Linked DNA regions of Homo sapiens: region 1 is linked to region 2. The links come from fine-mapping of genetic effects on gene expression. A gene starts in region 2. The other region holds a variant in brackets. All regions are shown on one strand. Distances are from middle to middle.

Region 1 (2,909 bases), 22 kb after region 2:
TTGGATAGAAGTAGTGAGAGTAGACACCCTTCACTTGTTCCCAGTTTTAATGACAAAGCATTCAAACTTTTACCCTTTTCCAATCATGTTTCTCTAATGTAGAGCTACAACTCTGACCATCTCTCCTTCTAGGTAAAATGAGCAACCACATGCACCAATCAAAGTTTTGCCCACTCGGAAGATTTCCTTTGACCACTGTTCTCAGGACCACCTTGAGTGGGGTTATAACAATATGTGATGCAGAAACATCTGTAACAAGGAACCAGACTTGAATTTTTTTTTTTTTTCCTTAGGCAGGGTCTCACTGTCGCCCAGGCTGAAGTGCAGTGGCACGATCACCACTGCACTTCAGCCTCAACCTCCTAGGCCCCAGTGGTCCTCCTGCTTCAGCCTCCCAAGTAGCTGGGATCACAGGTGCATGCCACTGCACCCGGCTATTATTATTATTATTATTATTATTATTATTTTGTATAGGTGGGATCTTACCATGTTGCTCAGGCTGTTCTCGAACTACTGGGCTCAAGCAGTCCTTCCGGCTGGGCCTCCCAAAGTGCTGAGATTATAAAATGTAAGCCACCGTGCCCAGCCAGACTTGAATTTTTTTTTTTAATTTTTACCTCCTTGGTCAACTGGTGATAGGTGATTTCCCATGAGGCCATAGATGTGGGTTGAGAGAGAATAGGCAATGTAGCAGGAGTAGTTACTCAGAGAACTTGCTTCTGCATTTAGGACCTGCTCAGACCCAATCTCATTTATACCATTTCCATTTCATAATGACTCCATCATTAAGTAGATGGAGTGCAACTTTCTGGCTTGATGAGTCATATAATACCCAATTTAATTTATCATTAATAAATAATGATATTTAGGCTTAGCTCAGGACACTTGATAATTTGGTGGCCCACAGCCAAGGGCTTTAGTGTCCACTAGGGCCAAGTGACATGCTCGAAGCTGTATCTCAAAAGGAGAATAGTTACCTGCAGAAGATAGTATTGTGTTTCTTCTGATTTCATCTTGAGGCCTCTTTCTGGAGAGTGGCTGTAAACTCTAGCCCTGTCCTGACTCCAGGGCCCCAGGAGAGCTGGCCATGGATGTTTGCAGTGCGCCATTGACAGGATACTTCATTATCTGGCAGATGGCCTAATTCCTAAGTGTCAGACCCATGACCAGGTGTCCGTCTCACAGGAAACTTGTTGATACTGGCAGACACCTGTGTGGCTCTTGTCTGACTTGTGTCCAGTTTATTCCTACCAAGATAGCCACTCTGTAGGAGAACCCTCTATGGAATGAGAGTTGGGTTCAGGTATGATGGTCAGGTGAGTTGCAGAGGAGGCAACACAGCAAAACACATGAAGTAACAGAAGCAGTGTATTGCTTACAGAGCTCTTACAGAGAAGAGGGCAGCACGCCTCTCAGGGCCAGTGGGGAGAGAGCTGGCCAGGACACACGTGCTTAGCTGGGGAGCAGGGAATGAGAGAGAAAGCAAGGGGCCTGAGGGCTAATGTCTGTATTGGGTCCAGGCCATTACCCAAGCAGGTTTCCTGAGAGGAGTTTTTGTTTTTTTTGTTTGTTTGTTTGTTTTTGG[T/TG]GGGGGGGGGGTTGGTTTTTGGTTTTGTTTTTTTTGTTGTTGTTTTTTTTTTGAGACAGAGTCTCACCCTGTCACCTAGGCTGGAAGGCAGTGGTGCAATCTTGGCTCACTGCAACCTCCGCCTTGCAGGGTCAAGTGATTCTCATGCCTCTGCCTCCCGAGTAGCTGGGATTACAGGTGCCCACCACCACACCTGGCTAATTTGTGTATTTTTAGTAGAGACATGGTTTTGCCATGTTCCCCAGGCTGGTCTCAAACTCCTGACCTCAGGTGATCCTCCTGCCTCGGCCTCCCAAAGTGCTGGGATTACAGGCATGAGCTGCCATGCCCAGCGGGTTTTTGGTTTTTTGAAATGGTCTCATTCTGTTGCCCAGGCTGGAGTGCACTGGCGCTATCACAGCTCACTGCACCCTCTACCTCTCAGGCTCAAGCAGTCCTCCCACCTCAGCCTCCTAAATATCTGGGATCACAGGAGTGCGCCACCATGCCTAGCTAATTTTTAAATTATTTTTGGTAGAGACAAGGTCTCGCTATGTTGCCCAGGCTGTCTCAAACTCCTTGTCTCAAGCAGTCCTCCCACCTTGGCCACTCACAGTGTTGGGATTACAGGCGTGAGCCACTGCATCCGATAGGAGTTCTAACTGGTAAGTTTAGAGCAAGCAGGCACAAGTATCATGGGGTCATGCTGTGACTCAGAGGTGGTCACTGCAGCATGTCTGGGCAGTCCATGTGGGGCGAGGGGGTTGGAGCAAGTCACATATGTAGTATCTAGGTGTCCACAGGGAAGTGGTCATCAGGAGGTGGTTGTATAAGGCAGGTATCTAGATTGATCACACTGAGGAGCTAGGAGGAGGTGGAGAACTGGACAATGTGTCAAGGGTGACTGAGTCCTGCTTTTTATATGAGAAAGGCTAACCTGTATTTAAAACAGATGCTGAGACAACATACAATTATAAAAATTTCGCCAGGTGCAATGGCTCATGCCTGTAATCCCCACCCTTTGGGAGGCCAAAGCTGGAGGATCACTTAAGCCCAGAAGTGTGAAACCAGTCTGGGCAACATAGCAAGACATTGTCTCTACAAAAAAAAAAATTTTTTAAGTTAGCCAGGCATGGAGGCACACGCCTGTAGTCCCAGCTACGTGGGAGGCTGAGGTGGGAGAATGGCTTGAGCCCAGGAGATCGAGGGTGCAGAGAGCCATGCTTGCACCACTGCAGTCCAGCCTGGTGAGACAAAGTGAGACCCTATCTCAGAAAAAGAAAAGAAAATATCCTGAGTTGCAAATGCCCTGAATACACCTAACCTACAGGACATCATAGCTTAG
Region 2 (2,909 bases):
ATAGTGTGGCACAAATAGCTGCCTGGCATCTGGGTGTTACACCTCCCACACAGGCCATGGTATAAACTTTATTGGGGTATTTCCATTTTTAACCTAACAAAAAATGTGGAATAACAGGTTGTTTCCCTGTGGAGGAAATATCAAGAATAAACAGGCGAGTGTGGAATCTGCGGAGGGAGGGGATTGTCTCTGGTTCCCGAAATCACGGCAAAGTACTTTCTGTGCAGGGAGGGCACAGTTTAAGAATATCTGTTGCAAAGAAAATACAGACACAAGGTAAACCAAAAACCAAAGCAAAGTTTCCCCATGACATTACCTGGAAACTACAGTCTCAGAACTACAGATTAACAAACGTAATCAATGGTACTGGGCTTTTCACAGTTTTGATGACGACAGCATGACTTCAGAGTCTAATGGGACACTATTCCCAAAGTTCTAGTTAACGTCGCAAAAATCTGACCTAATTCTTACAGGTTCAAATGTCTGGGCTGCTGGTTTGTGTAACCTGGACAAAATCGCTTCCAGGCTCTCAATTTTGCCACGAGTCACGATGACAGAGGGCTCTCCTGGCTTTTCTCACAGGCCTGAGTCCCATCTGGATTGAAGTCATTTTGCAAATAGCAGCCCACCACCCTTAGGCCAAATTTAAAATTTGTTTTGAATTTGCACCTTTCTGGTTGTGTTAAAGATTACAGATTACATGAACAAGGGCCTCCATGCCTTCGCTATCTAATTGATTTCTACAGTGTTGTTTCTTTACTGTCTTGCTCGCCCCACTCAAAGTCTCCCTCCTACACACCAGCCTACACACTTTCAGTTCTATTTTATAACCCGACAAATGCAAATTGACACACAGAGACAAATAACAACGCGGTTTGCTGAAGCAGGTTCAATCGACTGTATTGCCAATTAAAAGACCACCGGGTAAACAAGGGCCAACGACCACAGGGCAGGCCCCAGGGTTCACAAGCCCCCCCACCCCACGGCCCAGAAAGAGCTCGCCGCAGCGCCCACCTCTGCAACTCCTCCTCCTGGATCCTCTCCTCGTCCCAAACGAAGACGCCGGCTAACGCCGCCATCAAGGCAGAGGCATGGCCAGGACGGCCGTGCAGCCGGCGCCAGAGGCGGCCGAGGAGAACGCGGCGTGAGCTCTCGGAGTAGAGGCGGCCGTAGAGCTGCGCGATCTGCTGCGCGCGCCGCACGCGCAGGCCCGTGACGAAGCGGCACTGATTGGCCAGAAGCGCCAGCAGGCCCCCGCCCCGCGTCCCCGCCAGCCAGGCGGCCAGCAGCCTCCGCGGGAGCATGCCGCCTCCCGCAGGGCCCGCCGCGAGCTTCCGGGGCCCAAGGAACCAGTCCGGAGGGGCGCAGGCGGTGGTCGCAGCGTCCCCCTAAATGGCCGGCCACGAACCCGTCTCACGGTCCCGCGGCCAGGAGCCGCCGCTCATCTGTCTCTGCAGCCACCGCTGAGGAAGAGTCTCCTCTGAGGGGAGAGTCGGTCATGGCAGCAGACGCCGGGATGGCTCCGCGACTGCTACACCAGGCACTCCTGGGCCCGGGCAGCAGACCAGTCAGCCCTGTGGCTCCTCGGCGACCTCCAGCGGGCGCCCGGGGCCGGGATGCAGGGCGCGCGGACAGAAACGAGACAGACAGCTCAGGCCCAGCAGCACGCAAGCTCCCGCGCCTTCCGCGACTGCCACACGCGCGGCGCGCGCGCACCCTACTTTTTCTCCGCCACCTGGGCCGTGATTGGGCGCGACCTGGGCTCCTGGGTGCTCATTGGCGCCGTGAAGTGCTCGTCACCGCCCCCTCCTGCCCCTTCATGCATGCGCGGAGGCCGCCTGCTAGCAAGGTAGGTGGCTCGGCGGCGAGAGCCGTCAAGGGCGCATTGGAGAGTGACCCTCGGACCCGGCTGCCGCCGTCGCCGCCATCTTCCGGCCGTCCCAGCCCCGCCCCGCGGAGAAACCTGGCCAGGTTCCTGTTAGAATCCTGCCAGGTGTTAACTTGTTTTAAGAGGCCGGCACGCTGGCCCCCTTCTTTATTAGAGTGCAGGGTGGGGGCGGGGCTCCGCATGTCTCTGCGGGGGCTGGGGGCTCCCAGTGATAACCGCCATTGCAGAATTAAAACTGAGACAGTGAAAGAGATCTGACCTAACCAATTCCATCTTGCTTCTGTCCTTGTTCATTCCTGAGCTTAGGTGAACTAATTTTGGGAGGAACTTAGTTTATAGTTTAAAATAAAGAGGATAACAGCCCTTTCCCAAAACAAATCTTCTTATCTGGGAACTAGACTGCCTTTGTAGGACTAATAAGTTAGCCATAAGATTGGAAATTATGGTTTAGGAGTCATGCAGCTGGAGGCTACGATATTGTGATCCCCCTAAACTGCTCTTAAGATCAGTGCTTGAGATATTTTGCTGACCCCGCACTGGTTGGATCCTGGCACCACCCAGATGGATAAACTGGCTCATCTGACCTTGTGGCCCCCACCCAGGAACCAACTCAGTGCAAGAGGACAGCTTCAATTCCCTATTATTTCATCTCGACCCAACCAGTCAACACTCTGGACTCACTGGCCTTCCCCCACCCACCAAATTATCCTTAAACACTCTGATCCCGGAATGCTAAGGGAGACTGATTGAGTAATGTTGAAACAAACTCCAGTCTCATAGTGGGCTCTGCGTGAATTACTCTTTATTGCAGTTCCCCTGTCTTGATAAATCGGCTCTGTCTAGGCAGTGGGCAAGGTGAACCCATTGTACGGTTACAAATTTGGGGGTTCGTCTGGGATACCCCTTGTGGCTACCTGTCCATGGTTCGGTAGCCCCACCTCTGGTGACAGATCCAGAGGCCAGCCTAAGCGGCCACATAGTTCTCTTGGACTAGGGGCTAACTCTGGCACCGTCTCTGCCA

The links.
Region 1: its variant is fine-mapped to the expression of STARD7 in regulatory T cells (Schmiedel 2018, PIP 0.95).

What each region holds. Positions count from the first base shown.
Region 1 is chr2:96,229,245-96,232,153 of GRCh38, forward strand. The region is part of intron 1 of STARD7-AS1 (STARD7 antisense RNA 1); the gene reads left to right. Among named protein-coding and RNA genes, the nearest start is that of SNORA112, 16 kb to the left of the region's middle. The variant T/TG (reference allele first, on the strand shown) is at 1,586.
Region 2 is chr2:96,207,131-96,210,039 of GRCh38, forward strand. STARD7 (StAR related lipid transfer domain containing 7) reads right to left here and starts at 1,697. Exons shown (of 8, transcript NM_020151.4): 1 at 1,015-1,697. The coding sequence starts at 1,304. It overlaps STARD7-AS1 (STARD7 antisense RNA 1), which reads left to right and starts at 1,286. Exons shown (of 4, transcript NR_046322.1): 1 at 1,286-1,849. RefSeq lists silencers at 1,114-1,373, 1,724-1,943 and an enhancer at 1,391-1,981.